Linked DNA regions of Homo sapiens. The protein of the gene in region 3 interacts with the protein of the main gene of each other region in a pairwise test. Each region holds a gene or a part of one and is shown on either strand. Other genes may lie near its edges.

The links.
Region 1: the proteins of TRIM23 (region 3) and RUFY1 interact in binary tests that used the Homo sapiens proteins (3 or more experiments, as listed by UniProt).
Region 2: the proteins of TRIM23 (region 3) and RTP5 interact in binary tests that used the Homo sapiens proteins (3 or more experiments, as listed by UniProt).
Region 4: the proteins of TRIM23 (region 3) and CDR2 interact in binary tests that used the Homo sapiens proteins (3 or more experiments, as listed by UniProt).

Annotation. Positions count from the first base shown.
Region 1 is NC_000005.10:179,602,554-179,609,584, forward strand, and holds part of RUFY1 (RUN and FYVE domain-containing protein 1), read left to right. Parts: exon of another isoform or gene 1-219; intron 220-1,053; exon of another isoform or gene 1,054-1,188; intron 1,189-3,322; coding exon 3,323-3,371; intron 3,372-5,028; coding exon 5,029-5,106; intron 5,107-5,731; exon of another isoform or gene 5,732-5,912; intron 5,913-5,936; exon of another isoform or gene 5,937-6,063; intron 6,064-6,822; coding exon 6,823-6,966; 3' UTR 6,967-7,031. UniProt on the Homo sapiens protein: Activating adapter involved in cargo sorting from early/recycling endosomes. Regulates retrieval of proteins from endosomes to the trans-Golgi network through interaction with the dynein-dynactin complex.
Region 2 is NC_000002.12:241,864,754-241,872,742, reverse strand, and holds the start of RTP5 (receptor-transporting protein 5), read right to left. Parts: upstream 3,015-7,989; 5' UTR 2,987-3,014; coding exon 2,829-2,986; intron 1,030-2,828; coding exon 1-1,029.
Region 3 is NC_000005.10:65,589,159-65,593,333, forward strand, and holds the end of TRIM23 (E3 ubiquitin-protein ligase TRIM23), read right to left. Parts: intron 2,791-4,175; coding exon 2,611-2,790; 3' UTR 2,345-2,610; coding exon of another isoform or gene 2,286-2,344; 3' UTR 1,145-2,285; coding exon of another isoform or gene 1,141-1,144; 3' UTR 532-1,140; downstream 1-531.
Region 4 is NC_000016.10:22,364,610-22,371,640, reverse strand, and holds part of CDR2 (cerebellar degeneration-related protein 2), read left to right. Parts: intron 1-6,626; coding exon 6,627-6,739; intron 6,740-7,031.

The DNA.
Region 1 (7,031 bases), about 110 Mb from region 3:
GGCCTTGGGGTGGATCACACTGCGGACTGTGGAACTTGCCCATTTGTGTGATGATTCTGCATTTTCAACATAGTGGGTAGCTTTTCTCCTCGAGTCAGGGCGCATGGTTGCAAGTAACAGAAATCCAACTCAAAGTGGCTTAAGCAAAAGAAGCCATCAGGAATCGGTCTCTGTCTCCTACCTCTGCTATCCTGTCTGCCTCACAGGTGGGTCTGGACCCTGCAGGGGCAAAACAGCACTCAGCAAGGCCATCTATCAGAGGAACAAACTCCCTCTTCTTTGTGCATAGCTGCCAGGATCACCCGAGATTGACCCTGCTCCCGAGTACCCATGCCTGACATAAGCACCATGACCAAGGAGATGGGGCTCACGACCTCAGCACAGCCTGGTCTGCACCAGAAATTTGTAGAGTCTAGTACTATTAAGAAAATAGGCCGGGTGCGGTGGCTCACGCCTGTAATCTCAGCACTTTGGGAGACTGAGGTGAGCAGATCACCTGAGGTCAGGAGTTCGAGACCAGCCTGGCCAACATAGTGAAGCCCCGTCTCTACTAAAAATACAAAAATTAGCCAGGCATGGTGGGCACCTGTAATCCCAGCTACTCGGGAGGCTGAGACAGCAGCATCGCTTGAACCCGGGAGGCAGAGGTTGCAGTAAGCCGAGATTGCACCACTGCACTCCAGCCTGGGCAACAAAAGTGAGAATCCATCTCAAAAAAAAAAAACAAATAGCTGGTCAGGGAATCTGATGTCTCTGGTGGGAATGCGGTCTGCCCACTCCCAGATGCAGGTGCTGGCCACTCGCCGTCTCTCCTGTGCCTCTTACCTTTCTAGACTAGCCCATGGCCGCTGCTTCCTCCCCTCCCACCCTCCGCCCTGCCTGCCACCCACTCAGCTGAGTGCCCTGTGCTGCTCCCGTCTGGCCTGTCAACTTGCCGTGCTCTGGCCCGTTCCTTCCCAACCCCCAGGGAGCTCCTTGAGGGACGCAAGGCCCAGTGTCTGTCCCCATGCTCAGAGCATAGGCCAGCTGTGAGGGCATCCCGAGAGCACTCACCAGAAGCAGACGTGGAACAGAGCTGGCGTGGAGCTGGCTTCTGGGGTTTGCAGCCAGTGTTTTCCTCTTTACATTGGATGGACAGCAAGGCAGTGTCACAGGTCCCCTCCTAGTGGACCATAGACCTCGAAACTGTGGTTGGTCTCTGATCTTTAAAATGTATCATTGTGGCCGGGTGTGGTGGCTCATGCCTGTAATCCCAGCCCTTTGGGAGGCTGAGGTGGGTGGATCACCTGAGGTCAGGAGTTCAAGACCAGCCTGACCAACGTGGAGAAACCCCATCTCTACTAAAAATATAAAATTAGCCGGGCATGGTGGAGCGCGCCTGTAATCCCAGCTACTCAGGAGGCTGAGGCAGGAGAATCGCTTGAACCTGGGAGGCGGAGGTTGCGGTGAGCCGAGATCGCGCCATTGCACTCCAGCCTGGGCAATAAGAGTGAAACTCTGTCTCAAAAACAAACAAACAAATGTATTGTTGCACTTTGTGGCCGCCTGGCACTACCGGCTAACCTAGCTTCCAAATCCCAGTGTGAGCTGCCTGGCCACCATTCCCTCCCAGTGAGTGCTGTGGGTGTCACAGCATCAGGTGTTTGCAAACCCAGACAGGACTACCTGAGGAGTTGCTTTTGTGCTCTCTCCCCTCTTCCCTTCTTCCTCTTGCAAGCCTATACCGGATGACAGAGATGGCAAAGCCTCTTCGCAGGCCCTACATTAGCTACAGGAACAGTTTCCAGTTTCATTGGCTTGGGAACATCTGGATTCTTCCTAAATTGTGTTTCCCAGAGTTCTTGTATGTTCAGTTTGCCTTGTTGACCTGGCTTCCCAAGGTCTGTCCATCTGCGCAGCCTCTTCTCATCCTGTCAATCTGCTGGCCTATTTCCTGTTTCTGCAGCCGGACCAGGAAGGGAAGGAGCTGCCTCCCGATCTTTAGTAAAAGCCACAGGGATTTTTCTAAATGCCCTGATGCTGTTTTCTAATCCCTCCCTTCGAAGTCTAGCCTGTGTTTCCCAGAGACCTGCCATTTTGTCACTGAGATGAGTCTAATCTGATGATAGTTCAGACTGATCTCAGCTTTTAAGAAAGACCCAGGCCAGGCTGGGCGTGGGGGCTCAGGCCTCTAATCCCAGCACTTTGGGAGGCCGAGGCAGGTGGATCACTTGAGGTCAGGAGTTCAAGACCAGCCAGGCCAATATGGTGAAACCCCATCTCTAGTAAAAGTACAAGAAAATAAGCTGGGTGTGGTGTCGGGCGCCTGTCATCCCAGCTACTTGGGAAGCTGAGGCAGGAGAATTGCTTGAGCCCAGGAAGCAGAGGTTGCAGTGAGCCGAGATCACACCACCGCACTCCAGCCTGGCCAATGCAGCAAGACTCCATCTCAAAAAAAAAAAAGAAAAAAAGAAAAAGGCTCAGGCCTATAATCCTAGCACTTTGGGAGGCTGAGGCAGGTGGGTCAATTGAGGTCAGGAGTTCAAGACCAGCCTGGGCAACATGGCAAAACCCCACCTCTAGAAAAAATACAAAAATTAGCCAGGCGTGATGGCATGCACCTGTAGTCGCAGCTACTTGGGAGACTAAAGTGAGAGGATCACTTGAGCCCAGGAGGTCAAGGTTGCAGTGAGCCATGATTGCACCACTGCATTCCAGCCTGGGCAATATAGCAAGATCCTGTCTCAAAAAAAAAAAAAAAAGGATCAGACTGTTTCCCTCAATTGCACAAACTGCTTCATTTTATTTGGTTTAGTTCTGCCAATTTAGACCATGTTCAGTCCTGTCTCTTGTGTAAACAAAGGAATTGTTCTGACACTGAACAAGAATGGAGCAAGAACAAATGGCTATGCCATCTGAGCCTTCCCCCTTCCAGACAGCAGGCAGCAGAATGGAGGCCGGGGAGAAGCCTGCAGACTCAGGTTCCTGCTGGGGAGAGCGGTAGAGACTAGTGCAGAACAGGGCCAGGTCTTGGACTTCTGGCCTCAGGCCATCCTCTCGCCTCAGCCTCCCTCAAAGTCTTTTTGAGCCCCTGCAGGCTAAGCAGTGTGTTCTCGTGCCAGATGCAGTCCCAGGCTCAGCCTCAGCCCTCAGCAGACGGGAGCCAGTGTGATGAGGCAACTCTGGGATTGTACAGAGGCGGAAGGCATTTTAACAACTCACGTTCTGGGTCTCCTCACAAGTCCGGTATCCTCACAAAGCTAGTCCTGAGAGCCAGCTGTGTTAGGGATTCAGAGCCTCACTCTCTCTCACTGCTATGAAATGGCCTTTTTTTTTTCCTTAGGTCCAAGCTGAAGATGGAAGATATAAAAGAAGTGAACCAGGCACTGAAGGTACTGCCTTGCTAAGAACCACTTCTTTGCTGTCAGCTTGTGCTGACTGCCCGTGTGCTCGTACGTTTAAGTATCCCAACAGTCAGGTGAGAGCGTGTGGTTGAGGCAGTGGTGATGACGTATTGACAGAGAAGCCAAACGCTGCTCAGAAACGTGTCCCTCGGCTGAGGGCGATGCTGACAGGTGGCCGAAGCTGAGCCTAGGTCTTCCGACTCCAGTTCCTCCACCATCAGCTGTGCTTTCAAAATAGGCCTGATGGGCATTCCCTAAGGGGGAAGCAGGTGGCGGAGAGGAGGGACCCGCGGATATCTTTAAACAGTGGAAAACAGGCCCTTCTGTTGAAGTGAGGGGCCAGAGGCCAGCCAGCCCCACTGCAGTGCCCTGTGCCATTGCTAGGGACCACTCAAGCCAAGCCCTGAGTTGGGCCAGGTTTCCGCACCCTGGTGGGGAGGGCAGAATGACACATTCCACCGAAAAGCAGGAGTTTGCAGGTGGCCCGGTGTGGGTGCGGGTGCCAGGCTGAGCTGCAGGGCGGAGAGTGTGGGAGAGGAGGCAGACATTCGGGGGCACGGCAGCCTGGCCTTCAAGACAGCCTTGCCTGCAGGAGCACCCCGCTTCGGCCTCAGCTGTGCCGTGGCAGCAATGCAAAAGCAGTCCCTTTGCACACTGTTCCACGTGGTGCAGAGCAGGGACCCTGATGTCTCTGGGCATCTAACTTCCAAGTGCCAGGTCAGGGGCAGCAACTAACAGCAGCCGGGACTTCTAGGTAATATCAGTTTCACAGCATCAGAGGATAGAAATCATAAAACAGGACTCTAGAGCCGCCAGAGCTCTTTGATGTCAGGATGAATGTCCTGGGCACACACTGGCAGCCCCAAGGGTATATGGCTCTAGCTCAGTCTGTGAGGATCTATTTGTCAGCAAGAAAATCTTGTCCAGCAGATGTTAACAGGCCAGAAAAGTACCTCATGCCTTTGACTTCTCTGGAACACCCCAGTCCCTAAGCCCAAATAAATCACAGGTGCTGCTTCGCCCTGAGAAAGCCCTCTGAGGGGCCACCTTTCAAAGCCTCAGCCGCCTCCCCTGTGGAATGGAGTCCATGTGCTCCCCAGGGCTGGTCAAGAATCAGGGCTTTGGCCCGCATGGAGAAGGGCTTCCTCAGGCCTGTGGGACGCAGTGCCCGCTGTCCATCACCTTCTGTCTCTCCACAAGGATCAGCGTCAACAAGTGTCTTAGTCTCACTCAGATTTGGCCCTTCTTCCGCGCCTGCCAGTTCAGCTAGCACTTCGGCCAGTGTCTCAGGCAGGGTCTAGGGTTGCAGGCACCAGAAGCTCGCTCTGCTTACTTCAGCCAAAGGGAACTGATTGAAAGTGGGAGTGTGCCTGAGTGAGCAGATGCTGGAGACCGCCTGGAGGCCCCAGGGCAGCCTGCAGAGGCCAAGAGGTGGAGCACGGAGCTAGGATGCAGAAATCCCGGCTGCGGCCAGACGGGGAAAGAGCCCCTTGATGACAGTCCTGTGAGGCCCCATCTGATGGAGAAACAGTGCCTCACTAGGAAACAGGTGCTATGAGGGACAATGGATGTGGCCAGAACGCAGCTACCCACTCATCAGGGGCTTAGACAGAAAGTGGATTCTAGAATGTCCTTTCCTCTTCAGGGCCACGCCTGGCTGAAAGATGACGAAGCGACACACTGTAGGCAGTGTGAGAAGGAGTTCTCCATTTCCCGGAGAAAGGTACGTGGGGGCTCCACCCACCCTCCCAGTGCCCTGAGTCGTTGCCCGCTGGATTCCCCTTTCTCTGGTTCCAGAAGCCCATATCAGAGCAGGCTCACTGCCCGGTGACTGTGCTGACTGTGGCAGATGGGCAGCCCCGCCTCTCCTGTTTGCCTGTGCAGATGGCTTTCCATCCTGGCACCCTCTTTCTGGGAGGCCTTGGCCAGTCATAGGCCCCTGGTCTCCAGCACATCCTTTCAGTGATTGACAATGATTTTTGGGGAGATGGGGCTCCTTGTGTGCAGAGCTGCTCTAGGGGAGTGTCATTGAAAATTCTCTGTATGCGGCAGGAACAAAATCTGGCCCAACTTAGGCAAAAACAATCTATGGGGAACCTACAGGGCAGCAGGTCACCAAAAATCACTAGTGATCTAGGCAGCGTGCTTGCCCCTGCCCTTTAGGTTCTGGAAACAAGGTCCTAGGCTCACCCTTGGGTCTAGGGTTGACTGGGCCTTATTAACAGTCTCACCAAGACCAGCTGGGTAGGGGAAGAGTTGGGTATAAGCAAAACTGGGAGCTAAAGGAAACACTGCCAGCGCCACCCACCTTTCTGCCACAGCCATGTTCTGTCTGTTCCCATCAACAGCCTAGCTCTGTGGAAGAGAGGAAGCCACAGCTACCCCACCCGCTCCCCAACCCGAGTTTCAGGCAGTGCCTTGCAGTAAGCTCAGAGCTAGAAACCACGTCCTGAGGCTGCCTTTGAGATCACATGTGTCTACAAGGCCTGGCTGTCCCCATCTGTGGAGTCAGAAGCAGAGGCTGCACAGGTGCTCATCTTGATGTCTTATCAGGCACCCAGGGAACCTGTTTAGAAAGGGATCTACTCCACCCCCTTGGAATGCAGCAAAGAGAACGAACCAGACTCTTCCTGTAACATGGACTAGCAGCTCACTGGCTTAGTGATGAAGTACAGCAAAAGTAAACTTTTTGTCTTAAAAACACCCTTAGGCCGGGCACGGTGGCTCATGACTGTAATCCTAGCACTTTGGGAGGCTGAGGTGGGTGGATCACGAGGTCAGAAGTTCAAGACCAGTCTGGCCAAGATGGTGAAACCCCATCATCTCTACTAAAAAAATACAAAAACTAACCGGGCACGGTGGCAGGCACTTGTAATCCCAGCTACTTGGGAGGCTGAGGCAGGAGAATCGCTTGAACCCAGGTGGCAGAGGTTGCAGTGAGCCGAGATTGCGCCACTGCACCCCAGCCTGGGCGACAGAGACTCAAAAAAAAAAAAAAAAGCCGGGCGCGGTGTTTCACGCCTGTAATCCCAACACTTTGGGAGGCCAAGGCGGAGGCAGATCACGAGGTCAGGAGATCGAGACCATCCTGGCTAACATGGTGAAACCCCGTCTCTACTAAAAATACAAAAAATTAGCCAGGTATAGTGGCGGGCACCTGTAGACCCAGCTACTGCCGGAGAATGGCGTGAACCTGGGAGGCAGAGCTTGCAGTGAGCTGAGATCGCGCCACTGCACTGCAGCCCGGGCGACTGAGCAAGACTCTATCTCAAAAAAAAAAAAAAAAAAAGACCCTTGTTTGCACACAGCCCCTCACCACCCCACAGAAACATAAGAACCCATTCCCAGCAAATGATGCGCTTCTGGGTCAGGAAGCAGGGAGGGTGTGCGGATGGCTTTTCCCCGGGTGTCCTGTGACCGCCTTCTTCCCGTCCTGTAGCACCACTGCCGGAACTGTGGCCACATCTTCTGCAACACCTGCTCCAGCAACGAGCTGGCCCTGCCCTCCTACCCCAAGCCGGTGCGAGTGTGCGACAGCTGCCACACCCTGCTCCTGCAGCGCTGCTCCTCCACGGCCTCCTGAACGTCCGTCCTCAGGAGCACAGCCTCACGGACAGTGCCAAACCCTGTGGGTCTCCAGGGGCTTGG
Region 2 (7,989 bases), on a different chromosome or scaffold from region 3:
CCCTGGCCGCCTCCTTCCTTCCCGTTGCCTTCAGCCACCTCAGCAACGGCATCCTTGACATCAGTAAAGATGAAGGGGAAGGTGATGGAGGCCTCTTTAGTGGCCACAGGGCCATCGGTGGGCTCCGAGAGGGTGTTGGTGAAGATGCTGGTGAGGGAGGAGGGGAAGGTGAGGGAGCCCTCCCCGCTGGCCGAGAGGCCCACACAGTAGAACACGGTTGGCGTGTGTTTCCCCACAGGGACGAGGCCATTGTTGAGGGAGATGGGGCCCCAGCCCTGGGCCACGCCAACCGGGCTGCAGAGGGAGCCCCGGCCTTTGAAGAGGAAGCCCTTGAGCTCGAAGGTCTGGATGCTGCTGCCGAGGAGGCCGGGGCCGTGGAAGAGGGGGTCTCCAATGGCCACCGGGAAGCCTTTGCCCCCAGGCATGGCCACTGAATCCCCAGACAGGAAGATGGAGCCCTGGCCGATGACCAGGGCCTCACAGCTGCCAGTCACAGGGAGAGAGGCCCCCGCAGGGGGGGCAGGGCCCTCAGCGATGGGCACCTGGTCATTGCTGGTACCCACAAGGGAGAAGGGGATGGCGATGACAACGCCACCCTTGCCAAGGTCGTCGCCAGGGGTGGACAGCGGTTTGCCCCTGGAGACGGTGCCAGTGCCACCCCAGGCCGTGGCGGGGAAGTTGCCTTTTGTGGCGTTGGCGCTCCAGGCGGGGTCTGGGGCCTTCTGGAGGAAGCAGACCCCCAGCTCACAGGCCTCACAGCAGCCCTCATAGGCCTCCCTGGGGTGCCGGGCTGGGCCGGGGCCATCCCCGTAGCAGTCCTGCAGGATGTGCAAGACCAGCCTGCTGAGGAAGGGCTGCTCGCCCGGGGGCCTCACCTGGCAGTCCCCGGGTGCGGGGCACAGCCTGCACCGCTGGCCCCAGATGCGCATCTTCACCAGCCCCCGGTGGCTGGCCCTGTCCCACCACAGGTGGAAGAGGACGTGCACATGGGCCGAGTCCCAGGTCCCCGGACAGTGACCGCACTGGAGCCTGCGGCGGGGAAAGAAGTGTGTGTGAGTGCAGGAGAAAGAGGCCCCACGCCCAGCCCTCGCACTCTGCTCTGCGGCCTCCTTGCCCATCCGACCCCAGCGCCTCGCTGCCCCCTGCCTCACATCCCACACTCAAACCTCAAACCTCACCCCCCAGCCACCCAGGGCCGCGGCCAAGGCAGCCTAGCACCTGCTCCTGCCTGTGCCGAGGCTCTGAAACCACCAGCCCCTCGGCCACACACAGGCAAAAGCAGGCCCATGCGCACTAGCCCGCAGCCCCCTCATGTGGAGCACTGAGAAGCAAAGCAAACCTCCTCTCAGCAGTTTTTCAACAAAACCCGCTCCAGCCTGGCCTCCGTGAGGCGTCGGCAGCCTGCCACCTGCGTGGCTCTGCTGGTGTTTTGTGAGTTGGGGTTAACACAGGAAGAGGCAGGCCTGCCGACACACTTAGGAGGGGAAAAGCATGCATGTGGGGGCTGTCCCTGGGGGCTCAGCAAGTGGGGGTCCCTGTCCTGACTGAGAGGAGGCGATCCAGGAGGTCGCCTGCCAGCTGAGGGGAAGGATGTCACGGAGGCCTGCGGTCATGGCCCGGGCAGCCCTGCTGGGCGTCACCAGGCGAGGAGAGGTTTGGGGAGAGCACTGGGAGGGATTGGCTTGTCCATGGCGGTCATCAGACCGGTGACCATTTGCTAGCCACACAAGCAGCTGTGAGCTTCAGGGAACCCTGCATGAGTGAGAGGCTATGATTCAGTTCCAGGCAGTGGAAGTTTCTGGATGACAGAATGTTCTATAGCCACACTGCCCTGCCTGCAGCCTCCAACCACACTGGCCACAGAGCCCGTGGACACGTTCGTGCTGGAGGAACTGAACTGCTGACTTTATTTAAATGGGACTGAGGAGCCAAAGCCACGGGCGCTGGGGCTGCATGTTGGGGCAGCCGTCCTCAGTTCTCTCCCGCCAGCTGGGAGCCGCTCAGAGCCATCTCCACCTGGCTGTGGGAACAGTGATGTGCTTCCCAGCACTTCTCAGACCCCAACACGGGTTATTACTTTCCCAGCTTCTGAAAAAGCTGGGATTCTGCACACACCTGGCCCCAGGGGTCTCAGGCACTGAGGAGCTGTGTCAAAGGGCAGGACGACTCCCCCTTTGCCCAGGGTGTCTCCACAGAGGGACGGACCAGCCAGCAGCCTGGGGGCCTGTCAGGCCGGGCATCTGCGAGGATGTGGAGCTGCCCCGCGCCCCTCCCAGCTGGCACCCGGCCGAGCTGTGGATGCCTTGCCAGTTGGAGAAGCGCATGGCGCCCGCCCTGCTGCGCTGACGGCACCACAACCGTGATGACGGCCTGTGAGGCTCACTTGTGACCCACAGCCACCCCGGGCCCCCGATCAGGGCCGAGCACCCCGCTGTGTGCAACACAGGGCCGGATGGTGACCACAGGCTCCGGCACGCCCCAGGGCCCACCTGTCAGCACTGATGGCTGCGAGACCACGGCAGTGCCATGGAAGCAGGAGATGAGCCTGTGTCCAAGGGCAGCGCTGGCCCAAGGAGCCGAGTGAGGGAAACCAAACTCTCCATGAGGCACCCGCCATGTCTTCCCCGGGACCCCTGCGTCAGCAGCCGTGTGCCCAGCATGGCGAGGCAGGGGCTCCGGCGGGAGAAGGAGCACCCAGCCCCACCCTCCCGTCTCGGGGACAAGACGAGGCCCAACAGCCCCACCCAGCCTCTGGGACCACCCAAGGTCCCGTGGAAAAGCACCTTCAGCCCCCTGCCTCTCCCAGGGTCCCCAACCTCTGGCCGCACCTCGAGAGCCCCACCAGCAGGTACTGGACACCACCGCCGTCCAGGCATCCCGGGACCAGGCTGTGCTCAGGTAGCAGAACCCAGACGTCCTGGGGCTTCCTCTCGGCCATGGCCAGGGTGAAGGTGCTGGCCCACATGTCTGCCCCAGCCCGGTCCATGCTGCCGCCTGGCTCCGCAGTGTGGGCTGAGGGCTGCGCCCGCCGGGGGCCCAAGGAAACGTCCCCGCATCCCGCGCCGGCCAATCAGCCACCTTGACAACAGCATGGTCTCCATGGCAACCAGATTTGTCTCCGAGAAATGGGAAGCAGAAAGGAAAAATACAATACAATGCAATCTCCCATGACCCCGCCCCCCAGAGAGCATCCCTGTGGCAGCACCGTGGTGGTGGTGGTGGGCGTGGGCCCGTGGACACGCAGGGGCCTCCCCAGACCCGTGCGTGTAGAGGCCCGGGTGTTTTCACACATCGCACCAAGGAATCATCCACAGCCCTCTCTTTCTAGTGCACATCAGGAGCGGTGGCCCACACTCATCCCTTGCTGAACACTTGGTATTTTTCCAGCTTGTGGCTATCATGTAACTTATTCACTCAGCTTCTCTCTGCAAACAGCACTAATGCTTTTCACACAAACAAAGCTGAGAAGAACTTTATAGAACGTGTATCATTGCAGATTGTCCCGTGGGTGTATTCTCTTAAACTTTTTACTAGTGAGAAATATAAAATATTTACATAAAATGCCTAAAACATAAATGCAGAGCTTCACAAATTATTCTAAAGTCTTAAGTCACCACGTCCTATAGGAAGAAACAAAACCTCGCTCTGCCAGCCTCCAGAGCTGGCTGCCTGTTCCCTCCCGATCTCAGCCCGCGGCCCCACCCCCACCCCCTGCCCTCCTGGCAGAGGTGCCACCAGCCTGGCCGTGCCTGCACAGACAACGTTGAGGCTTCAACACCTATGATGCCTCCCTCACCGAGCCCTTTAGCTGTGCAGCTTCTGAGCTTTACATAAACAATTCATGCATGTGCCCAGCTTCTCACGCCTTTTCAGGTTGTTTAATTTCTGAGATTCAACAGCATTGCTGTGCGTGGCAGCCACCTGTCATGGCACAACAAGAAAGGGTGAGCTGAGAAGGAGCCGGGACGTGCAGGGGCGGAGACAGCCAGCTGATCCCTGCAAAACCTCAGCACAGATCTGCCCCCGGGAGGCTCCCGGCCACCCGGCTCTCCTCACAGCTCCCATCTCGCCATCTCTCTGCCCTGCACACTGAACAATCTCTTCTCATTTTTCTACCACTTCACACATTATCTCCTCGTCTCTGTCGACTCTGCAGCTAATGCTGGCAAGCGCCTTGTCATAGTTTTCATTTCTGAACCTTCTTTTCGGCCCTTTCAAACCTGTGACATCTTCCCGCCTTGCAGCTAGGTGTGACTGCAAGATAGAAGAGGAAGCCAGTGGGACGCACTCTGGGAAGGGGCCTCCATACAGGGCCAGACTGCCAGGGAAAGCCCCGCGTTTCTCATCCCAGCTTCATTTTCTTCTATCCATCAGTGCTGGGATGATGGCCGCACTCCAGCCTGTCTTAGACCTGCCTCAAGCACAGAGCTGTGAGCCCAAGGAGCAGGAAGGCGGGAGCCCGGGGCTGTGGTGACAGATGGAGTCGTCACACCACTGGAGGGTCGCCCACCTCTGGGTTTCCTGTTCACACGAGAAGTAAGCCAGCTGCCACTGTGGTCTCGAGGCACTGTTCTCTGGCACTGTGGATGATCACACAGCTAGCCGGAGCAATCCTAACTCACTCGCCGGGCTGTATCTAAGGTCCTGGGGTTTGCTGGTTGGCTCCGGGCCACTGTGCGTGTGTGGGCCCCTTGTGGTCCTGGTCGTGTGCCCCCGCAGGGGTCTAAGAGACACCTACTGTCCACTTGCCTCCAAAAGCCTCGGTCCACAGGGGTCCCTGCAGAGGACCTCCTCCCACCACAGCCCCCCAGAGCCAGTGTTTCCTGGCTGCTTCCGTGCCACGCTGGGGCCACAGCCCTGCCTGCCAGTCCCACCTCTCAGGCTCCTCAGCCCTGGAGGCCACACCTGGCTCTGAGTTTAGGGAAAAGCTTTGGAATGATGACTGACCACAGTCACCCAAAATAACCTTTTGGATGGCAATTCCGGCCCTTATGAAATGCAGGGAGCTGGTTGCCCGGGCATTATTCGCTCAAGAATTGTTGAGTTTTCCTTAGACCCATCCCAGAACACCTCCAGAGGCCTGGGCGGCAGACAGCAGAGAGGGCATCCTGTCCACGCCTCTGTCTGACTGCCCATTTGTCTGTCTCCCAAACCCACAAGCCACGCCCTGCAAGAGCTGCTTACGTGGCCCCCTCACAAATCAGCCAGCCATGAGCACCCCCTCTTCTTCGGCGGGGATGGATGAGGCAGGTTGTGCACAGCACCCACGGGTCCCTGCAACATGTGGCAGGGTCCTCCTTGGGCCTTCTGCATCAGCGCCCACCTGGAGCCGGCCACTGGAGCCTCTCTCCAGGCATGTGTGGTCCCTCCAAGGACAGGCCCTAGGACCCAGGCCTGGGGCAGACGCCTTCTGACCCCGCTCCCTGCCCAGCCTCCCCGAAGGCTGGCTCCAGGACAGGGTGAGATGGGGGTGGGAGATTGGGCCACAGGGAAAAGAAACGATCAGGGGAAGCCGGGTGCCCCTTCAGCACTGCTGCCCACCTGGTGTGGTGGCTTAGCGCTCCCTCTCCCCGCAGACACGCGCTCCTTCTGGGGCCCCTTCCTCACACGCTGGTACCCGTCTTCCTGAGCTCAGCTTCTGGGGAGGGCAGCTGGCAGGCCGGGGACAGCCCTCCCTTGGGAAGCAGAACTTGCAGCTCAGGTGAGTCCCACCACAGTCTCCTGCCAGAACGGATGCACTGCCTGGGCCTGGAGGAGCAGAGGCAGCAGCTCCCGGCGAGGGAGGAGCAAACGCCAAGGCCCGGTGGGGCCAGAGGACCGGTCGGCTGACGGGATGGTGGTCCTTGCTCAGAGGGAGAAAGAGACGGGCAGGAAAAGGAGCCGAGCAGAGAACGGTGGCCGTTCGCAGGTGCTGGGGCTCACCCTCCCCCCACAGACCTCAGCTGGGGCTCACCCTCCCAACACAGACCTCAGCTCGTGGCTGCAGCGGCAGGGACAAGGCCGCCTCCCAGACCCCAGGCCCTGCAGTCCCACAGGCCCCACCGGCAAGGGGTTGTTCCTGGCCCAAGGCTCCGTGTGGCTCTGCCCCAGCGCTGCCCAGGCGGGCAGGGATCCCAGGACCGGCAGCTGGTGGGGGGACGCAGCCTCTGTCCAGCCATTCTGTTGCTGAAAGCGCTTCCACTGTCCAAGAGGCCCCTTGCTCTCCCCTCCAACCCGCAGTCCTGCTGGGGCTGGGGAGGCCATTCCGAAGGAGGAATGCAAGGGACCTCCTGCACTCGCCCTCGGAGCATCCCTCCCTGGGGGACCGCTCACTCACGCTGCTCATCCCCCGCAGCTCAGCATCCCCCGCAGCTCAGCATCCCCCGCAGCTCAGCATCCCCCGCAGCTCAGCATCCCCCGCAGCTCAGCATCCCCCGCAGCTCAGCATCCCCCCGCAGCTCAGCATCCCGCGCAGCTCAGCATCCCGCGCAGCTCAGCCCGGGTTCTTCGGCTTTGGAGCCCAGCAGGGGGACCAGCAGGGGGACCAGCAAGGGGCCTGAGTGACACCCACTGCCCTGGAGTGAGAAGGCAGGGGCGCCACACACACACAGGACACCACACACCACACACCACACACACCACACACACTACACATACCACACACACACTACACACACCACACACACCACACAAACACCACACATGCCACACACGCCACACACACCACACACTACAAGCCACACACACCACACACTACACACACTACACATACCACACACACTACACACACCATACACTACACACACCAGACACACTACACACACCACACCACACACACCAAACACACACATCACACAAACCATACACAACACGCACTACACACACACACTCTACACACACCACACACAGCACACACACCATACCACATACACCACACACACTACACACACCACACGCACCCACACACACCACACACTACACACACCACACAACCAAACACCACACATGCCACACATGCCACACAAACCACACACTACACCAGACACCACACACACCACACAACCAAACACCACAAGACACATATGCCACACACACCACACACTACACACCACACACTACACACACCACACACTACATACACTACACACATCACACACTACACACACCACACACTACACACACCACACATAAACGCACATTACACACACCACACACACACACTACACACACCACACTTACAACACACACCACCCTACACACACATCACACAAACCATACACAACACACACTACACACACAACACACTCTACACACACCACACACAGCACACACACCATACCACATACACCACACACACTACACACACACCCACACATCACACACACTACACACACACAACACATTACACACACCACACACAGTACACACACCACACACACTACACACACCACACACAAACGCACACTACACACACCACACAACCAAACACCACACACACCACACACTACACCACACACCACACACTACACATACCACAAACACACACTACACACACCACAGAAACACCACACATTACCGCACACACCACACACACTACACATACCACACACAAACACACACGCCAAACACGCCACACACAGTACACACACCACACACACTACACAACCAAACACCACACACACACTACACACACGACACACACCACACACACGACACACACCACACACTACATAAAAACACTACACACACCACACACACCAAACACCACACATGCCACACACACACCACACACACTACACTACACACCACACACACTACACCCACCACACACACAACACACCACACACACCACACACTACACCACACAACACACACAACACATACTACACACACCACACACACACTACACCCACCACACACCACGTACACACTACACACACCACACAATGCACACTACACACACCAAACACATTACACCACACACCACACACACTACACACACCACACACA
Region 3 (4,175 bases):
ATCCCAGTGTTACATAAAAAGCCTTTCTCTTAGCAGTATTAGTTCATGAGCTACCACTAAGTTTTGCAAGCCATTTTCTAAAATGGTCATTTAAAATACTATGTTTTCTTATGAAACAAGTTTACATTTAAAATTTAAAAGGCAGTAACAAAGTTTCACTTCGTTCAATGTAAAACTTTAGCTCCGCCTTCAAAACACTATGGTTATATTACTTATTTAAATGTGGCCTGCACATTACTTCTCGGCCTTTTGGCTAAGATCAGGTGTAGTTAAGATCAAGTTTAGTATCTGTTCTCATCAGTAAATGTGGCCTATGTTGCAAATTCAAAACGTTATTTCTAAAATTTTGCTGTATCAAATAAACTACATCTCAAATTTGACAGGCATGCCAACCCATACCCATTTTGTTTTATTTTCTCTCCTAACCACAGCACAAATAATGACTTCTTAAATTGGTTACAACTAGCAATAATATTAGGTAGATGGTTCAAGAAAGAGACTTTCAAGAATAATGATGGGACTTCTTAAAAATGATCTTAACATTTTATTGCTGTCTATACTTATCATATATGTAGTGCAAATAATGGCTTCTGATGGTTATAAAGCATTCCTGAATTATAGACTACGGCTATACACTTGACATACCTGCTTTATATAACATACAGTAATATTTAGACCTAATACAGAAATTCAGCTACTAGGAAAATTCTAATATACTGTATATAAAAAAGCTCTCTTCTTAGTTTCCCAGGGAAGACTAGCACAGTCTTAACTAATGATTAGTGAAATAATACAACCACAAATAGTAATAGGAGCTTGAGAAAAATATTTCTTTAAAAATGAATCACACACAAACACCTACCATTATACATACATTATAATCAGGCACAATTTTTCAACTGTGTTCAGTTATATGCTAAGAATGTGCATTACAAAGTTTAGCAAAATTAGTGAAAAGGGAAGCAAGTTCACCTTAGTGTTACACTTTTTCTTCAATTAACTAGTAAACAGTTCAAGTTCTCACAAGCAATACAACACCTTTTTTATTTTTCACAGTTATTGAAATCAGTCAAATATTAAATAATTTAATTCGGAAGTATTATTTATGCACACAAACTACACCTGTAACAGCATGACCTTTTACCTGAAAAATAAAGGATGAAATATTACATTTATTTATTTACATATTGCCCATAATACTGATAGGCTTTTTTTTTAATGCTTTGTTTTCTAAAACTTGTATTGTTTTTAAACAAAAATAGATTTGAAAAGAATGAACCACAACAGTGCTACCAAAAAGTCACATCTTGTTACCAGACATCACTGTCCTTACAACAATTCAACTAATAAGATTTAAGATTTAACTTCATCCTAATGTATCAGAACATTAAAAAAAAAAAAGTCTCAATGTACCTATTTAAATAAATCGTGCTTCCATAATAATATTCTTTAAAAATGAAAAACAGTAAAGAGCACACATTTTTATTTACTCACAACACTGAATAATTAATGTAAACTTTTTGAATTTTTTTTTTCTTTAGACATTTTTCCTCTAGAGTAACTTTTCAAGGCCTTCTCATGAACAGCCTTAAGTTTTATTGTCAAAATAAATGCACTTATTTTGGGAAACAGTTTGAAGTAAGTAATAAGCATTTGCCACTGTACTTACAACTTCTCTTGAAGTTCGCTTTCTATTTAGGTCACTAGCTTTTAAATAAAGCCAACCCTGGTTCTGCGTTACTTACTACATTTTACCTATAGTCATTCCCACAAAGGATGCAATATTATATTAGAAAGAAATATTACTTTAAATTTGTTGAAAAATAGAAGGACCAATTTAGAGCTCTGACCTAGGTTCAGTCCTGGAAATGGGTCTTTCATAAATTCAGATCCAATTACTTCCACAGTTTTATTACTGTTCAGTTTATTACTAACCTGACAAGCCTAATTGGGTAACATTTCACTCCCTCATTGTGTTTTATACAAAATGCTGTAGGAGAAAGTTAATAAAACACTATATAAAGTATTAATTTTCTGTACCTTATAGTTCTTAGCATTAAAGGTGTTCTGTTAACTCTGAACATAAACATAAAGTAATCCTATTATCCAAATATGTAGTTTGGATTCTATTTCATTAAGCAACTGTCATTTCTACTACTAAATGCTGCCAACATTCAGTGAAAAGGCAGGTTAAAAGAAGCAGCTATACTTCACTTGCTTCACACAGAGGTCTCATTAGGCACTCAATTGGCTATTCTTTTTTCACTGAAAGAATAAACCTTCACTTACCCTTTCTCTGTGACTACCTCTTTCCCAGTATATTGGTCACATATTATCTGAAAAACTTAAATAACAAATATACTTTTTAAAAGAATGTATATTCAATAAGTTTCTATTTAATTCAATCTAATCTGCTCAATTAGAAATTTAATTCTGCCACAAAATTTTTTTAAAGCAAAGTACTGAATTCCCAATCCAAGATTCCTTTATATATATATATATATATATGCATCCTAAATTACCATCTTTTGAGATGTATAATTTCTTAAAACATACTATGTGCAAAGTTACTTTTAACCACAAAACTTCAAACAACTGCTGCCTTTAAAATCAAGCAACATCCAATACTCCAGCAGCTACAAGTTGCCGTGAGAGCCAGTCCAACCCTTCATACAGTCCCATACCACTTCGAGCATCACAGCCCTGAATATACCAGCTACGGCCACAGCATAATTTATGGAGACTGAGTAGTTCAGTGATTTCTTCTACTGACAGTGCTCCAGCAACATCCTGAAAGATATATACACATATTTTTTATCAGTCCATCCAAATTATAATTTTTCTAATTATCACCATTTATAGAGAAATTTGTTGACAGTGTTCTAACAGAAGCCTAAACAAAAAACCTAGATTCATCTTTCAGTAATTATTCTGAGATTAATAAGAATAGAAAAAATTAGTTTGGTTTAACTAATTTATATGTGTGTGTATGTATATACTTTGTAAGGCTAGCTTAACAATGAAATCAATAAAGTCCTTGCAACCTAAAAGGAAACATACTGCCTAAGTAATTTTTTTATCTTTTGAGACAGAGTCTCACTCTGTCACCCAGACTGGAGTGCAGTGACATGATCTTGGCTCACTGCAACTTCTGCCTCCTGGTTCAAGCGATTCTCCTGCTTTGGCCTCCCAAGTAGCTGGGATTACAGGCATGTGCTACCATGCCCGGCTAATTTTTTTGTATTTTTAGTAGAGATGAGGTTTCACCATGTTAGTCAGGCTGGTCTCGAACTCCTGACCTCAAGTGATCCACCAACCTCAGCCTCCCAAAATGCAAGGATTGCAGGCATGAGCCACCACGCCTGGCCTGCCTAAGTGTAAGGCATCAACTTAAAAAAAAAAAATTAACACATAGAAACCTTAATAAATGGTTTATATATAGGGTTATATATTGAAGAGTTCACTACATTCCCACTCTGAACACCCATTGCCCCAACTTCCCAGGAGCAACCACCAGTTACAACATATTTTTCCAGAAAATTTCCATGCACACTCATGCAAAGAGACACAAACAGGAACATAGTTTAGACTTTCTATAACTTGCAGGGTTTTCTGTTTGTTTTTTACGTAAACATGTTGAAGATGAGTATCTTTCCATTATCAGCACAGATGGTCTGCATTATTTTTAATATCAGAATTCCCTTCCATTGTGTGGCTGCAACATAATTTAACCAGTCCTATACTGAATGTTCAGATTGAAGTTTTATGCTTATGTGCTATTATAAATCCATATATATACACATACATACATAAACATACATACACAAAAGTTGACATACATTTATGTATATTTGCAAAATTATCTGTAGGATAACCTTTGGATATCTGTCTACCAGATATATAAAGGTAGAATTGCAGGGTAAGGGACTTTGATGAGTATTGCCAAATTGTCCTCCAAGAAAATGTCTCAGTTTAATAACCCACGAACAGTGTTGACCAGGCGCAGTGACTCACACCTGTAATCCCAGCACTTTGGGAGGATGAGGCGGGCAGATCACTTGAGGTCAGGAGTTTGAGACCAGCCTGACCAACACGATGAAACCCTGAATCTACTAAAAATACAAAAGTTAGCCGGGTGTGGTAGCAAGCACCTGTAATCCCAGCTACTTGGGAGG
Region 4 (7,031 bases), on a different chromosome or scaffold from region 3:
GTTTTGCTAAGTTATATGTTAACTCCTAAACTTTTAACAGATTTTAAAACTTGTTCATTTCTCAAAAATGTATTATCTGCTCTTTGCCAGGTATTCGCCTGGGCCCTGGGGCCACAGCACCTCCCCACATGAGTGGATAGGTAGGATTCCTACTCCCATAGAGTGAATGTTCCAGGAATCTGTTCACTAGAGAAGCCTGGAGGTGCCGCCTCATGGGATGTGCCCACTACAGCGCCTCGTACATTGTAGGCCCTCAGTAGACACTTGCTGCTGAATTAAGTTTGGGAGCAGGTCTGTCCTGTTAAACAGATTATTCAGCAAGTCTAGTGGGATTTTATGTGCAGGCATCTGTCCGTTTTTTAACATCCTCATTATTATTACTGAGCAAGGCTTATTTGGAGAGAACTGCTTAAAACTTTTTTTTTTTTTTTGAGGTGGAGTCTCGCTCTGTCCCCAGGCTGGAGTGCAGTGGCACGCTCTTGGCTCACTGCAATCTCCGCCTCCCGCGTTCAAGCCATTTTCCTGCCTCAGCCTCCCAAGTAGCTGGGATTACAGACACGTGCCACCACACCCAGCTAATTTTTGTATTTTTAGTAGAGACGGGGTTTCCCCATGTTAGCCAGGATGGTCTCAATCTCCTGACCTCGTGATTTACCCGCCTCGGCCTCCCAAAGTGCTGGGATTACAGGCGTGAACCACCGCACCTGGCTGGAAAACAACTTTTAATGATCCTGTTCTCAGTATCTTACAACTATAGAATGTTTTCCTTTAGCAGTAGTAAGCCATGCTCTGAATAGATTGAATCTTTGTATCAAAGTTTCCTAGGGTATCCGTTTTTAAATTGAAATTGCTGGAAATTTCTAACCTCAGTAAACTCTGGTCTACTATTCATACCTTGTTAGAAACATGTAAAGCTTTTGTGTAGGCAGGAGGAGAAAACCCTTTGCTGTTACAAAACTCTTTGATGAAGAGACTGTCTTTTGTCAGAGAGCTGAGTTGGCTCAGTAGGAATACTGACAATAATCTCTGTGGGTAAGATCTTTTCTGGGACAGCAGGAGCCTTCAGTGCAGGTAATGATGGTGCTTGCTTTGAAACATGCCCCTGAGAACAAGGTGGAAAGACTTCAGAGACTGGATTTTCTTTTAAACCAGCTGCTATTGTCATTTGGTGAGCTGTGCAAACTTAGAATAAGGATTCAGGTTTCTGTTATGTGGATCAGTAAATGAACTCTTAGTTTAAAGGAATCCTAAAATTGCAGGATGAGTACATCCTCCTTGTGTACAACTATTTTGCTGAATCACTGTTTGGAGGGTTATTAAAACTGACAACATCATTTTTCTTGATATTTATATTCAGGTTTTCTGCTTTCCCAATTATAGTAACATTGGCAACAGGAGTTAAACAGAAGCATCACTAAATGACGCATTTGACTTTGTAATAGGAAAAACTTTCAGCCTTACTGTTAGTGAATTACTCCTACAGACTACAGCTGCCAGTACTAATTTTTTGCCTAAAGCATAGAGCTGAGTATCTGTTTAAAGCTAACAGTTTACACCATTAAAAATATATTATTACCTGCAAAGACTCATTAGTGAAAGAATATTCAACATATGAAGGTATTGATATGTTGAAATTCTCAAGCCTGCAATAAATCTACAGTATTTTTAGTAGTTGCCTAAACCAGGCCAGTTCAATAGGATTTAGAGAAGACCCTCTTAATGAAAATTCATTTTGTAATCCTGTAGAGATGAACAGGTGTATAAGGCTTCGAAACTATATTATTTCCTTTTCTTTTGTGCCTTAATTAAAACTATAAGGGACATTCAATATTCTATTCCCTCCACTAATTATTTAGAAAACTTTCTTGGGCTTACTGCCAGCTTTTGGCCTCTTTTGGTTATGGAAGCCAGCTGCTACTCAACAGGAAATGAACTTTTTTTAAAGACAAAGTCCGGTGTCTTTAAGCTAACAGATGAAGTAATATCCTGTTATACAGTGTGACTTCACAGGAGCTTTCTTGTAGTTGGGACTTGTTAAAATTCTATCCTTAACAGCCTATAAATATTTAGGAGATCGAGACTTCAGGTTTCTGAGCCAGGCTGGTGCTTTGTTTTACTGGAAATAAGGTTTGAGATAAGGACAAGTCTCAAATTCTTTTTTGTTTGCTATCTACTAAAGAGTGCTGTCCTTGGTATCTCTTTCTGCAGGAGCAGGGAAGAGGTTCCTGGCTACTCTTAAGTAGCACAGGTAGTTCCATAACTGAATGAAAGTGGTGATAGTCTCAAGACAGTCTGGATTCTGGGAGAGGTTTCAGCCCAGTTGGGTTTTGTTTTTTTTCTTTTTTTTTTTTTTCCTGCTAAGAGACAAGGTCTTGCTATGTTGCCCATGCTGGTCTCGAACTCTTGGCCTCAAACAGTCCTCCTGCCTTGGCGTCCCAAAGTGCTGAGATTACAGGTGTGAGCCACCACACCCGGTCCTTGGCTCAGGCTTTGATTGCTGGTTAAGAGCATCTTTGGTGAATCTGAGCCTTCCCAGTGAGGAATTACCACTTCACACATTTAAGAAGGAAAGACTTAAGTAATACCTAGGTAATGTTTTTATACTTTGTCTTTAATACAGTGTGGTAGCTTCCATATGGGTCTATGTATACACATTACACACTCTGTGAGTACAAAATCATTTTTTCTGGAACATGTTGAGCCATACATAGTTCCTTTTTCATTTGGTGAAAACAGGGTATTAACTTGCCTGGGGTTGTATGTGCTTTCACTAGCAGAGCAGGCAATAAAAACCCAAATAGTTGAACTCTAATTTCTCATTGCAATCTGTGAAAACAAGTAGAAGAAATTAAGTACCTCAACAAGGGGAACATTTGTATTCTCTACCTTAAAGAAGCCTGCGGACCTCTCTTTCAATTGCCTTAAAACTCTGCAGATGAAGATAACAAAGAATCGTGATGAGAGTGAGAGTGAGAACCTGTTGACCTAAGAGTTTCTGTTTGATCTGTGACTCACCTTGGAGCTTGATTAGGTCAATTAACAGTTTTGTGCTTCAGGCTGTCTCATCTGAGAAACTGGACTAAATACCTTTAAAGATATAAAGACTAATGTCTCTAGAAAACAAAAAGTAGGCTGGGGGCAGTGGCTCATGCCTATAATCCCCAGCACTTGGGGAGGCCGCGGTGGGCGGATCACTTGAGGTCAGGATTTCGAGACCAGCCTGGCCAGCATAGTGAAACCCCATCTCTACTAACAATACAAAAATTAGCCAGGTGTGGTGGTGGGTGCCTGTAATCCCAGCTACTCAGGAGGCTGAGGCAGGAGAATCACTTGAATCCAGGAGGCAGAGGTTGCAGTGAGCCGAGATCGCACCACTGCCCTCCAGCCTGGGTGACAAGAGTGAGAGACTCCATCTCAAAAAAAATAAATAAATAATGACAAGAAAAAGACTAATGTCTCTTAAATGCTTTGAGCTATTTGTAAAAGTTCTGTGTTTTGTAAATACAAGTTATTTCATAGATTTAATGGAAGTCTTTATTTTTTATTTTTTTATTTTTGAGACAGGGCCTCACTGTATTTTTGGTAGAGATGTAATTTCACCATGTTGCCCTGGCTGGTCTCGAACTTCTGAGCTCAAGCAGTCCATCTGGTTCACCCTCCCAAAATGCTGGGATTATAGGCATGACCCACTGCACCTGGCCTCTAAAGTCTTAATGAATGTAATGACTAATAGACATTGTTAGTTTTGAAATCACAAGAGAATGTATTTTAGCACCTATCTACCAACAGTATACTGTTTTATTTTAAATGGGTGTAAAATGTTTTTAAATGATCTGGAGTTGGGTGTGGTAGGTTTTGCTGCTTTTTCCAGAGTGAAAACTAACCAAGTAGAATACTAATTATGCACTTGAGTGGACATTACAACAACTAATGCTGTTGTTACCATTTACTCAATGCTAAGTTTTACTATGAGTAGTGGTGGATAGCCATTAAGCCTTATTTGTCAACCTCTAAAAATTAAGTTTAAAAATCATTATGTAGTGAGTTTCCTTGTTTTTATGATAAATTTTTTTCATAATACTTTTATGACAATAACTGAGGCTACTTTCCATCATACCTAGAATAAAATTTAAACTTTACCTACCATGGGCTATAAAATCCTATATGATCTGATCCCTCATGCTTCTATCATACTGGCTGCTTGTCAGGTTGTAGAATATGCCAAATTCATGGCAAGTTCTTCATCCTTCAAGCTTCAGCTAAAAGGTCTTGTCAGACCTTCCTTATGACCTCCCTTTCTAAATTGGGCCCTAGGCTGGGCACAGTGGCTCATGCCTGTAATCCCAACATTTTGGGAGGCTGATGTGGGAGGATGTGTTGAGGCCAGAAGTTTGAGATCATCCTGGGCAGCATTGTAAGACCCTGTCTCTACAATAAATCAGTAAGTAAGTAAGCTGGGTTTGGTAGTGCATGCCTGTAGTCCCAGCTGTTTGGCAGGCTGAGGCAGGAAGATCACTTGAGCCCAGGAATCCAAGGCTACAGTCAGCCATGAGTGCACCACTGCACTCCAGCATGGCAACAGAGCGAGACCGTGCCTAATAAAGAGACAGAAAAAGAAAGCCCTTTGTTCATTATCACCAAATCCAGGTTTTTCTCCCCCGCTTTATCTTTTAGACTTTATATTGAATTGGTCAACAAATCCTTTAGCTTTACTTTCAAAACATGTCAGAATTCTGCCCCTCCTCTCCCATCTTCATCTCTGCCACCCTGGTCCAAGCCACCATCATCTCTCACCCAGACGATTGCAGTATCTTTCTGTCACTCTGCTCCCACCTTTGTCCCATTCACCCTGTATAACAGCAGCCGGAGTGATCCTGTTAAACCTCCATTGGATTCCTTCATTTGGAGTAAAGGCCAAACTCTTGACCTCTTTAGTTAGGCCCTCCGCAAACTGGCCATCTTGGAGCCCCTCTGATTTGAGTCTTCCCCCTCCCCTCCCTGCCCAATACATTCTGCTCCACCCTCCTCAGCCTCCTTAATGACTCAGTCATGCTTCCTCCCAGGTGCTTTGCACTTGCCTTGCCTCTGCCTGGAGTGCTGTTTCCCTGATGGATACACATGGGTCACTTATTCTGTTCCTTCACACATTGATTCTAATGTGGCCCTGGTCACATGTTCTTAAATTTCAGCCTCCCACATCCACACTCCTCCTGTACTTCTTCCTTGCTTTATTTTTTTCTCTTTAGCATTTATCGCTATCAAGTTTTATTGTGCTGTTTCTCCCAGTAGAATATAAGCTCCATGAGGGCAGGGATATTTTTTTAATGTGAGTTCCTTATGGCTCCTGGGCACCATCCCAGTGCCTAGAATAGTGTCTGATATTATTGAGTATATGCATGCATGCATGAATACTGTTTATCACAGTATGTGAGTTTAGTTACTCATTTGTCTGGCTTCCTCCACTAATCTGGGAATGTCAGCAAAGCAGGACTTCATTTTATTCACTGTTCTATAGCTAATGCTTAGCATAGTGCCTGGCAACAAAAACATTCATTTGTGAATCAATGACTATTAATAGTACTTTGCGTGCGTATTGCAACTTAGTTTGTAAAGTACTCCTTTATGTATTATTTCATTTGATTTTCACAATCTTATATTGATAAGACAGTCATCTCTCTAAACAAGAATACTAACTATAGGGGCCTTAAAGTCACCATATTGAAAGTGTTCTGGTAAATGATAGAACTGGGCCTGAGACTTACCTGCCCAGAGTGCAGTGCATTTCCCACTGTATCAAAGGACTGCTCCATAAGATTTACTATGCAAAGAAGTATTTCAATGACGTATGTTACAACTAGTGTCCTTTCTTATATTGTTAACTAAATTTTCATTTCTGGGAGTTGAGTATAATATAAACAAATCCTGTTTTATGGGCATTATACCTAAGAATAGAGAGAGTTGAAAAATGAGGTTTAAAATAAAATATGGTTCTGTGCTAAATGGAAGTATGAGCTACTGACATGTAATTACCTCAAAAACCACATTTCTGTTTTGCTTTTCTAGTTGCTCATCTTACAGAAGGACACGAAGAGAAGTAGAGTGACCTGGGGCAGTGTTCTTAATGCTGATGTATTTTTCCTTTTCTTGACTTAATAAATTTTAGTCCCCTTAGGAGTCCAGGATATATGACAATAAACTTTAACAGTTGTATTCACAGCAGGCAAATTCATGGGAACTTTAAAGATTTTTGAAAGCTCCACCTATACCTTGGCTCAAGGGTCCATTCAAAAAAGTAGACTGTCAGGATATGAATACATTCATTGTACTAGCAAATAGGATTTTAGAAGTAACACTGCGGAATGATCATTCCTGAACAAATAACTGCATCTCCATAAAGTAGATGACCATTTTTCACTTCTTACAAGTATGGGTACATAAGAGAATACATTACCTGCTGGAGGCGTCAGTTTAACTGAATTTTAAGTAGAACTCGGGTTTCCTTCTGTGCCACTCCACCTTCCATTGGGATGTGACTTAAACTACATGTTCTTTTTTGAAGGACTGGGTTATATAAATTGTTGATGTGAGATCATTTGTATTATTCTAAGATTCATTTGTTGTGCTAGATCTTCAACTTGCTGCTGAGCTTGGGAAGACATTACTGGATCGGAACACAGAGTTGGAGGACTCTGTTCAGCAGATGTATACAACCAATCAGGAGCAGTTACAGGAAATTGAGGTAATTCACTTGGCAGGAGAGTTACACTTTTGACACTTCGATGTGTTGCTGTTATGCCAATCACATACTGGTAAAAAAGCACTTGCAATTAGATGCAGCATTTTATTTTTTAACACAAACTTTTTTGAGAATGAGAACCGCCTCCCGAGTAGCTGGGATTACAGGCGCCTGCCACCACGCCTGGCTAATTTTTGTATTTTTGGTAGAGATGGGGTTTCACTGTGTTAGCCAGGCTGGTCTCGAACTCCTGTCCTCAGATGATCCACCTGCCTTGGCCTCCCAAAGTGCTGGG